Homo sapiens: one gene and its partners. The protein of the gene in region 1 purifies or fractionates together with the protein of each later gene. This does not show direct contact. Each region holds a gene or a part of one and is shown on either strand. Other genes may lie near its edges.

What was found.
Region 2: the proteins of HERPUD1 (region 1) and SLC35E1 purify together in Homo sapiens (affinity purification with mass spectrometry, with the first as the bait; one large-scale study listed by BioGRID). This does not show direct contact.
Region 3: the proteins of HERPUD1 (region 1) and TMEM201 purify together in Homo sapiens (affinity purification with mass spectrometry, with the first as the bait; one large-scale study listed by BioGRID). This does not show direct contact.

Annotation. Positions count from the first base shown.
Region 1 is NC_000016.10:56,938,642-56,942,141, reverse strand, and holds part of HERPUD1 (homocysteine-responsive endoplasmic reticulum-resident ubiquitin-like domain member 1 protein), read right to left. Parts: intron 2,906-3,500; coding exon 2,783-2,905; intron 2,248-2,782; coding exon 1,897-2,247; exon of another isoform or gene 1,741-1,896; intron 1,277-1,740; exon of another isoform or gene 11-1,276; coding exon 1-10. UniProt on the Homo sapiens protein: Component of the endoplasmic reticulum quality control (ERQC) system also called ER-associated degradation (ERAD) involved in ubiquitin-dependent degradation of misfolded endoplasmic reticulum proteins.
Region 2 is NC_000019.10:16,562,282-16,566,005, forward strand, and holds part of SLC35E1 (solute carrier family 35 member E1), read right to left. Parts: intron 1-3,724. UniProt on the Homo sapiens protein: Putative transporter.
Region 3 is NC_000001.11:9,609,187-9,612,910, reverse strand, and holds part of TMEM201 (transmembrane protein 201), read right to left. Parts: intron 3,072-3,724; coding exon 3,000-3,071; intron 2,406-2,999; coding exon 2,106-2,405; intron 1,897-2,105; coding exon of another isoform or gene 1,838-1,896; intron 1,693-1,837; coding exon of another isoform or gene 1,571-1,692; intron 1,159-1,570; coding exon 1,021-1,158; intron 1-1,020. UniProt on the Homo sapiens protein: Critical regulator of angiogenesis and endothelial cell (EC) migration. Promotes the migration of endothelial cells, which is essential for angiogenesis.

The DNA of each region.
Region 1 (3,500 bases):
AACGTGATGCCTTCAAAGGAAGCACATAAAAGTCCATCTTAGCTGATGTCACAGTGAGACTTACTCAAGAATCCAAGGCTCCCCACCTCTAATCACAGCAGCACCCTGATAAGCTCACTGCAAGACCCATCTACAGAGGCATTTGATCACACTGTCTCCCAGACATTCTCACCAGTCTGTAAGGTCCTTGAAGGCAGGGACTGTGTTTTATTCATCATTGCACACCCAGCCATATAAACAGCACCTGGCACATAGTATGCACTCAATAAATGCTTATGACGAACTAAACCTTACCCTTGAAAACCTGAACAGAGCGGGGAGAATGCATATACCTACAAAGCTATAATTATATATAACATAATGACAACCTACATTTGGTCTTTTAAATATATGATTCTAGAGACTACAGAAAATATTAACTAAACGTTTTATTTGAAGAAACCAATTAAATCCCAAGTCTTAAATATAATAAAATATTAACAATGACTAATTGTGGATATTTGAGTGTTCATTATATTCTAATTATTCCTTTTTTATTTTTAAAAGCTAAAATAAAAATCCATTTTTACTATACAGGAAAATTTCTTCTTTTAGTTTCAACCACGAAGACCCATCACTCTAGGCCAGGCTTTCTCAGCTTTGGCACTAGTGACATATTGAGCCAAATATTTACTGTGGGAGTTGTCCTGTGCATTGTAGAAAATTCAGCAGCACTCTTGCTTCTACTAACTAGACGCCAGCAGGACCACTTCCCCTAGATGTGACAACCAAAAATATCTACACATTGCCAAATGTCCCCTGGGGAGAGAGGGTACAAAACCACCCCCAGTTGAGAACTACTGCTTCGGGCCACAGCTAAAACCAAATGTCAGGTATGTGAAGGTTCCCTTGCCTTTCAGGGCCATGCTAACAGTCAGTGCCTGACTTTACCCTGGAAGGCAGCTGTGGTCTGATAAAGGCAAATGTGTTCTCATTCAAAACAAATACAGTTTTCTGTTCCATGCCTCAGTATGGCTACATACTTGTGGTTTGTGAGCCTGGAAGGTAAGGTAGCTTATCTAGAGGACAAGATAATATTCTTATATTAACACAGGATTGATATGTTCTTGGGACCATACAACCAAGCCATGAATTCCTTGTATCGAAAGTGCCAGAATACATACTATTTATTATGTATTTATTCTAAGACAGGGTCTTGCTCTGTCACCCAGGCTGGAGTGCAGTGGTGCGATCTTGGCTCACTGCAACCTCTGCCTCCCCAGTTCAAGCAATTCTCCTGCCTTAGCCACCCAAGTAAATTACAGGCCCGTGCCACCACACCCGGCTAATTTTTTGTATTTTTAGTAGAGACGGGGTTTCACCATATTGGCCAGGATGGTCTCAAACTCCTGGCCTCATGTGATCCTCCTGCCTCGGCCTCCCAAACTGCTGGGATTACAGGTGTGAGCCACTGCGCCCAGCCACAGAGTGATATACTATTTAAACACATCTCCTTCTACAGTAACTGAGACTGCTCAAAAAAGAGCAAAATCTGGCCAGGCGCAGTGGTGGCTCACGCCTGTAATACCAGCACTTTGGGAGGCCAAGGTGGGCAGATCACTTGAGGTCAGGAGTTCGAGACCACCTGGCCAACATGACCAAACCCCGTCTCTACTAGAAATATAAAAATTAGCCAGGCATGGTGGTGGGCGCCTGTAATCCCAACTACCCAGGAGGCTGAGGCAGGAGAATCGCTTGAACCTGGGAAGCGGAGATTGCAGTGATTGTGCCATTGTACTCCAGCCTGAATGACAGAGCGAGACTCCATCTCAAAAAAAACAAGAAACAAAAAGAGCAAAATCTGCTTAGTGTGAACACAGTGTAGTGTAATTTATATTAGAGAAACCATCTGCTTACAGGTACATAACAACGGTGGCCCCCATGACCATGAGGAATCTGCTCAGGGAGGAGTAGAAGTAGAGGATACTGAGAAAAACAGAAAATGTAGCTGCTGAATAGGTCCAATCCAACCAATCTCGATTTATTTCATCATCTTCTTCCACAATAGGGCCACCTTGTGCATTCATCCGCAAATTTTGATTGGCTCCAGGATTAACAACCACTTGAGGAGCAGCATTCTGATTGGCAGGCTGGTTTTCAGCTGGAAACTGGTTGTGAATAGGGGCTGGAGCAGGTGCAGAGACCACAGGTATCTCTTGTGCACTTGGTGGTGGAACAAAAGCCCCTGATGCAGCAGTGGCTGCTAAACTAAAATAAAAACGACAGAGGCAGATACTGTTGAGACCAAAGCACCGTGAAGTCTGTGGCTTATTTACACAGCAGTCTTTTACTGTTAAGAATTTCAAGTAGGTAGATATGCCTTTGATTTTTCTTCAATTTAGTGAAGAACTTCCTTACTAACTATATCTATAAATGCCTTTTCTAAGAAAAGCCACAAGGTGAATTTCACCTGAAATTAAACATCAAGCCCACTGTAAGATTATGGCACAGTAGCAAATTAAAATCCTCACAAAACTTTGAAGATAGCACAAATTGAAAAGAAAGTAACATGTTCTAAATAAAGTCACTAAACTATGTATCAGACAAAAGCACCCTTGTGTCAATACACAAATCAGGTAGCAGCTGTCATTTACACTCTACCCACAGACCAAACAGAGCAGGGCTCTGCAGACTGATGAAAATACACTCATCCCTCCATTCTGAACTTTACAGGTAACATGGATAAAATTCCCTTCAATTCCCGGGAGCCCTGGCCACACCCAGCATGGCGGGAAGGACTCACTATTGCATGTAGTACTGTCGTGCATATATCTGCTGGAACCAGGAAAGCTGAAGCCACCCATAGGGTGTGTAACCGGAGAAACCAGGACCCAGGCCTTGGAATGCCTGCTGGGCAGCTTCAGGCCTATACATAGATTTGAAAAAACACTCATTTTGAGTGGGTTGAGTATGAACAAATGAAAACTAAGTTTAAATTAAAATCAAGAATTCAAATCGAAGAGACAGAAGAATGGAATTTACGGCAGTTACATGGTAAATGACTGTATGACGCACCCATGTACCACAAGCACAGAAGGTACTAAATGACACAGCACTTCTACCACAGTCCCATCCCACAGGAAAACAACAGCCCTTGCCACCTGCTTGCTGAGTGCACAGATATATAAACAACCTTTTTGGGTTAAGTAGATCCCACCTCAGTTTTGACTTGTTGAGTCTCACTGCAGGTCTCAACCCACTGTTCATCTTTTAGAGAGCAGCTCAAAAGCCACATTTCTCCCAGTCTTTCCTGAAGGAAATCTCTCCCATCCTCCCAATATCCACTTCTTCCTCCATCCTCCATCTGAATCTATAGTGAAGTGTGCATGTGGTATCACCTGTGCATGCTTACTGACCACCGGGGGTCCTGTACAGGCTGCTGGGTCCACAGCAATCTCATGAAGGAGATTTTACAAGGGGAACCCAAGTACAGCTCAGGGAAGACAGGGGCTTTGCACAAG
Region 2 (3,724 bases), on another chromosome or scaffold:
CACTGACACTATTACACAGCCGTACAAGAAATGAGAAAGGCCTTCTATGTCGTTATGAAGAGCTCTCTGGGACGATGAGATGAAATGAACAAGGTGCAGAATAGTTCAGCTCCCCTTCAGTATCCACGGAGGACTGGTTCTAGGGACCCCTGCGGATGCCAAAATCTACAGATATTCAAGTCCCTTTTATAAAATGGTTTAGTATTTGCATGTAATCCATGCACATCCTCCCATATACTTGAAATCATCGCTAGATTACTTGTAATCCCTAATACAATAAAACTGCTATACAAATAATTGTTATACTGTATTATTTTAAAATGTCTTATTCTTTATTATAGTATTTTGTTTTTCTACCATATATTTTCAATTCGCAGTTGGCTGAATCCACTAGTGTGGAACCCACAGATATGGAAGGATGACTGTATGTTTATATTTATTTTTGAGATAGGGTCTTGCTCTGTCATGCTGGCTGGGGTGCAGTGGCTCAAACATGGCTCACTGCAGCTTTGACCTTCCCGGGCTCAAGTGATCTTCCCACCTCAGGCTCCCAAGTAGCTCGGACTACAGGCATGTGCCACCATGCCGGGTTAATTTTTGGTTTTGTTTTACGTAGAGACGGGGTTTCACCATGTTGACCAGGCTGGTCTCAAACTCCTGAGGCTAAAGCAGTCTGCCTGCCTCTGCCTTCCAAAATACTGGGATTACATGTGTGAGGCACTGTGCCTGACCTGTAAATTTAAAAAGCTACTTTTTGGGCTGGGCGTGGTCGCTTACGCCTATAATTCCAGCACTTTGGGAGGCCGAAGTGGGTGGATCACCTAATGTCAGGAGTTTGAGACTAGCCTGGCCAAAATGGAGAAACCCCACCTCTAGTAAAAACACACAAAAAATTAGCTGGGCGCGGTGGTGGGTGTCTGTAGTCCCAGCTACTCGGGAGGCTGAGGCAGGAGAACTGCTTGAATCCGGGAGGCGGAGGCTGCAGTGAGCCGAGAACATGCCATTGCATTCTAGCCTAGGAGACAGAAAAACTCCGTCTCAAAAAATAAAATAAAATAAAATAAAATAATAAAATAAAAAGCTACTCTGTGTGTAATAAGGACAGAGGGTGATTATACATGCAAATTTGCTTATATTTGCAAAAATATGGAACAGGTGAACTAGGAGCCTAAGAAATGTTATCCATGGTCAGGGAGGGGACAGGGAGAGTACAGGAATCATGACCAGACTTCTTCTTTTTTTTTATTTTTATGAGACAGTCTCACTTTGTCACCCAGGTTGGAGTGCAGTGTCGTGATCTCAGCTCACTGCAACCTCCACCTACCTAGTAGCTAGGATTATAGGCGTACGCCACCACACCAGATAATTTTTATATTTTTTCTAGAGATGGGGTTTCCCCACGTTGGCCAGGCTGGTTTCGAACTCCTGGCCTCAAGGGATCCACCTACCTCGGTCTCCTAAAGTGCTGGGATTCCAGGTGTGAGCCACCACACCCAGCCTGCAAAGAAATACTAACCTTTTCTCAGCACTCCAGTTGCAATTGTGCTGTGAGAATGCTCATTCTGAAGCAATTATATGAGTGAGTGTACAGTAGAATAACATCAGTGAATAACGGGTAGAATAAGCAACTAAGAAACGAGGAGCGGAACCAAGCATACCAGCGACGAGATCTAAATATGAAATTCAAAACAGCAAAGATCTGGACTGTTCAACTGAAAGTGACGCTAATTGCTAGGAACTCTTTGCTGCTGCCCCAAGTGTGTACTTCCTAATTTTTCACAGTAAAGGCCTAACAACAATGACCACCCAGCAGCAAAAAGCACCCATGGCACCTGGATTGTGTCTCTAAATACCGCTCCCCACTAACGGCACCTGGAGTCCTGAAGGAGGGGCTGACTGCAGCTCTGGGATGGGAAGTACACAAGGTGAAGGCGGGCATCCCGCTGGGAGAAACGCTGACCCACAGTGCTAGAAGGGCAAGGAGCCAATCAGAAGGGCTCCAATGGCTAAGACAGGACAATTTTTTTTTCTTCTTTTTTTTTAAGATGGAGTCTCGCTCTGTCGCCCAGGCTGGAGTGCAGTGGTACGATCTCAGCTCACCGCAACCTCCGCCTTCCAGGTTCAAGCAATTCTCCTGCCTCAGCCTCCTGAGTAGCTGGGATTACAGGCGTGCACCACCATGCCTGGCAAATTTTTGTATTTTCTGTAGAGATGGGGTTTCACCACGTTGGCCAGGCTGGTCTTGAACTCCTGACCTCAAGTGATCTGCCCACCTCGGCCTCCCAAAGTGCTGGGATTACAGGCTGGAGCCACTGCGCCTGGCCAAGACAGGACAATTTGACTAGGAAAACGAATAATTCATGCAACTGACAAACACATAAAAGTTCACAATGATGCTGGAGAAAAAAAGAGAACCCCTTCCCTACCCCCAAACAAACCCTCAACTCTGGTCAACATTTGGAGTAAGCTCCAACTCTCTATCCTGAAAATTAGTCATCAAAAGGAACAGTTAAGCATTAAACTGCCTTTCTCGTACCATACTTCAAGGTAACAAACTAGTCCTGGAAGATGGAAAGTTCTTCACAGAAGAATTACAGCTCATCAATGTGAAACGAAAGTTAGAAAAGTGAGCCATGGTTTACTGATTGGGAAAATAGAGGTAATATCCACTACTTCAGCAGGTGGAGCCAAGGATTAAAGATAAGAAATGTCACAAATCCAGCTAGACCACATTAAGACCTCAATAAATATTTACTTTTCCTTTCTAACTCGAGTCTGGAAGAATCGCACTGGCCTCCTCCTCACCGCAGGCACTTGCATTCATTTATAACACATTCTCTGAAGGCAGACCCTGCAGGTGGCAAAAAGATTCGACGTGGAGTAAATGGAAACAGAGACCAGGGAGGAACTGAGCTGCACAGTTTTCTTTCTTTCTTTTTTTTTTTTGAGACGGAGCTTCACACTTGTTGCCCAGGCTGGAGTGCAGTGGTGCGATCTCGGCTCACTGCAAACTCTGCCTCCTGGGTTCAAGCGATTCTCCCACCTCAGCCTCCCAAGTGGCTGGGATTACAGGCGTGCACCACCACGCCTGGCTAATTTTGTATTTTTAGTAGAGACAGGATTTCACCATATTGGTCAGGCTGGTCTCGAACTCCTGACCTCAAATGATTCACACACCTTGGCCTCCCAAAGTGCTGGGATTATAGGCGTAAGCCACCACACCCAGGCAGCGCATGTTTTTTTCTTTTTTTTTTGACACGGAGTCTCCCTCTGTCACCCAGGCTGGAGTGCAGTGGCACCATCTCGGCTCACTGCAACCGCCACATCCTGGGTTCAAGCAATTCTTCTGCCTCAGCCTCCCAAGTAGCTGGGACTACAGGTGCGAGCCACCATGCCTGGCTAATTTTTGTATTTTTGGGAGAAACAGGGTGTCACCATATTGGCCAGGCTGGTCTCAAACTCCTGACCTCGTGATCCGCCCGCCTTGGCCTCCCAGAGTGCTGGGATTACAGGCGTGAGCCACTGCGCCCGGCTTTTTTTTTTTTTTTTTTTTTTTTTGGCCAGTGCATAGTTTTCAAAGTTCCAGGGCTGGCAAGGCACAGTGGCTCACATCTGTAATCCCAGCACTTTGGGAGGCCAAGGCAGATCTCTTAACGCCAGGAGTTCAGGACCAGCCTGGGCAACATAGTGAGACCCTGTCTCTCCAAAAACAGTAAAAAAACAA
Region 3 (3,724 bases), on another chromosome or scaffold:
ATGCAGTTTGTGGGGAGCTCAAGGCTCTGCCCAGGGTACTCTCTGAGACTGGTGAGGCTCACCCCCAATTCTTCTCTTGGCCAAAGGCTTCCCTAGCAGGAAAGACCCCCACTCCCTGCCTCCCTGAAGGCACAGCTTTTCCTAACCCTGAGCCGCCAGGAAGGCCATGGGCTGGGCTGTCATGAGCTGGGGCCTGGGTGATGAGGCAGTGACCACAATGGCCACTTTACAGATGAGGTCATGGGGGCTGGGAACAGGAGCACCCCATCCAGGCCTCCAAGGGAATAAGCAGCCAACCCAGGTCCACCTGCTGCATGCCGCAGCCTGCGTTCTCACCAAGGCCTCCAAGCTGCTGGGCCACCCTCCAGCCTGGGGCAGCACTGGCTTTGAGAGTCAGTGCAAAATGACCTGCCCAGGAAAAGCCCTGCTTGCTGATCTGTCCATCTCCCTCAACACACACCCCCTCCTCCCCACCCAGGGAGTGATGATGTGTACCACAGATCTGGTCTCTTGCCCCTGAGCCCCAGGGTTAGTGAGCAGAGAACCTGGGATCTGAGCCAGGCAGCTCGGCACCCGGTGCAGGCTGCAGCCCCAGCGTGACGTGGTCCCGGTGCACCCAGGCTCTCTGGGCACTTCCGGCCAGGATGGCAGCCTTCGGTATGTGTCCTAAATGCCAGCCACGGGCCACAGGTGCCTACTGAGCACTTGAAATGTGGCTAGTGCAGCTCAAGAACTACATTTCAAACTTTATTTAATTTTAATTCAGTTAATTTAAATAGCTGCCTGGGGCCAGAAGCTACTGGAATAGTGCAGATCGGGGCCCAAATCCCGAGAGGGGGAGTGCCGTCTACTGAGTCCCTGACCCTGGATTCAGAGGCGCCGGGTGGGTTACTTGTCGGCCACTCAGGGACTGCAATGTCCTGGAAGATTCTTTCTGTCAGTGCTCTGGACCCCCCTGGGGGAGATGGTGGCTTCGGATGTGTGCCCACCCCCTCCCCTCCCGCACCTCAGGGTACAGACCTCTCCAGGTGGCGGCCTCCTCCGAGCAGCCCCTGGTGGTGGTGTCCACCACACAGGTAGATGACTGGGAAGAGTCGTCCTCTTTCTTGATGGAGCGGTTGCTGCAGGCACTGCCTCTTTCCAGCTTGGATCTCAGGTCTGCAGAGAGAAGGGTGTGTTTCTCAGTGGCGCTCATGGCTCCCTCCAGGGACAGACGCGGGGCAGCTGTACTTCCACTCTAAGGACAGTTGTCAGAAGTGGTGAGCCAGGCTGTCCCAAGCCACTCATCCACCCTGGACAGTGGGGGGCCAGGTCCTTGCTCAACTGTCCTGCCACCTCTTGTCTGCCAGTATTCAGGCCCAAGGTGACCAGATCTCTGACATTGAAAGAGACGTGGGAAATCTAAACATTCGAGGCCGGGCGCAGTGGCCCACGCCTGTGATCCCAGCACTTTGGGAAGCCAAGATGGGTGGGTCACTTGAGATCAGGAGTTCAAGACCAGCCTGGGAAACATGGTGATATCCCGTCTCTACTAAAAATATAAAAATTAGCCAGGCATGGTGGCGCGCACCTGTAGTCCCAGCTACTCGGGAGGCTGAAGCAGGACAATCTCTTGAACCCTGGAGGAGGAGGTTGCAGTGAGCCAAGATCACGCCACTGCACTCCAGCCTGGGCGACAGAGTGAGACTGCATCTCGAAAAAAAAAAAAAAAGGAAATCTACAAATTCATGTGAAAGTTGAAAGTTGTAGGTTTTAAAGGCTGGGGGCTAACTATAAACATTTTAAATGCTTTGCAGTACAGCACCATTTGAGTGAAACTATCTGTGGCCACACGCACCTGGCAATGCGTGATGTGTTTTCGATCAGTTCCAAGAAACAGAGGACCCTGAAGGTCAACTGCAAAAGGAGAAACTGAAATCAGCCATTAGAGGTCAATGTCCCAGAGGGTTCAAGTCACCAGAGCCGGAATGGGGTGCCTAGAGCTCCAGGGTGGGAAGGCGCACACCGGAGTCAGAGCAAGGATGAGCCCCCCCACCGCCGCACAGCCAGGCCTCTTGGCAGCAGAGGCCCTCCCACGGCCCCTTGGGGTGGTCAGAAGGCCGTACCCAGGGCGTGCTTCACGTCCTGCAGGGGCGGCTTCCGGGGAACATGGGGCGGCTCCATGGTGAAGAGGCTGCCGTTGTGAGGCGAGTGCTCATCGGAGCTGCTGGGCGTGGTGGGGGCCTCTCCAGGGGGTGACGGGAACAGCAGCAGCTTCTGTCCCTTCAGGTTGAGCCGGGCAGGGCTGATGAGGGGCCTGCGGTGGCGCAGAGAGCCGGAGCTGGAGGCCACCGAGCCGGCCACGGAAGGCGCTGGGGAAGGGAGTGGGGAGGAGGGGCAGCTCCCCGACAGAAGAGAGAAGTAATCTGGAGGGAGGGAGGAAGATGATGTGAACGTGGGCTCCTGTCACTGCAACGCTACAATGCGCTATTTCATTTCTGGGGGCATTCTTCTATTAACCCGGGAAGACAGGAAAGGTGCAGAGACTGGGGACAGGGGGAAGTCCTGCTGCAAAGCTGAAGGAGGAGAGGTGCCCTCTACCAGGCACCTGAGGGAGAGGAGAGATCCCGGAGCCTCAGCCATGGCCTTCTGCCCTTGATTTCCATCCAAAGCCCTGGGTACCATCAGCTGAGAGCAAGGCCAGATAGCAGCAAACCCTGGAGGTACAAGGCCAGCTCACCCGAGGCCTTGCTGCCAGCTGGCACCTGGTGCACCAGTTCCAGCCGTGACTGCCACTGAGGACGGCAGAGCAGCATGGTACCATCTGATCCTAGAGACTGTCATTCCCATTTCACGCAAGAGGAAACTGAGGCACAGGTGTGTAGGTCACTTGCCCAGGGCTGAGATGTGAACACACACTTGGGGTCTGTCTGACCCCAAAGCTCACACAAACCACCATGCTCTGGAACGCCCGGGCTTCATGTTGCCCCGTCCCCCACTTAGCTCTCTGTCTTCCTCACCTGAAACAGGAAACTCCCCAGATCGAGACACCTGAGATGGTGGGCGGCTACCGCTGAACAGATAGCCGGAGTCTGGAGACAGAGAGAAGCGGGCGACACGTCAGGCCTGTGGATGACGTGCAGAGGCCCCCACAAATGCTCTGCCGAAATCCCAATCCAGCCTTTGCTCTTTACAAATGTGCTTTCATGGAAACACAGGTGCTCACGGATTCCTCGGACTGCTGTCTGAGGGCTGCTGGGCACGTTCCCTTTTTGCAGATAAAGAAACTGAGGCTTGGGCTGGGCGCAGTGGCTCATGCCTGTAATCCCAGCACTTTGGGAGGCTGAGGTAGGCAGATCAGATCACGAGGTCAGGAAGAAACTTGAGGCTCACAGCAGGTGGTGAGAAGAGTCGGCACTGGGCATATTGTCCACTCCTCGTTCCATGCCCTTCTTCCCACAGAAGGGCCTGCTTTTCCAGCCATCTAGTCCCACTTTCTCCACTAATTGCAGACCCCAACTGCCTGTTCTCTCGATCCCAGGGATCACCAACCACGCTGCCTTTTCCTAAATCAGGCGCACGCACCCCAAGGGCAGGGGCCCCAATTCCAAGTGGCTGGCTGAGAGCTGAATGTGGGACCCAGGGACTGCCTCATGTCCTGTTGCCACCTGTGGGCTCTGAAGGGTCTGTTGCAGCATGCAGATAACCCTCCCCTCACCAGGCCAGGGGATAGGCTGGATAAGGG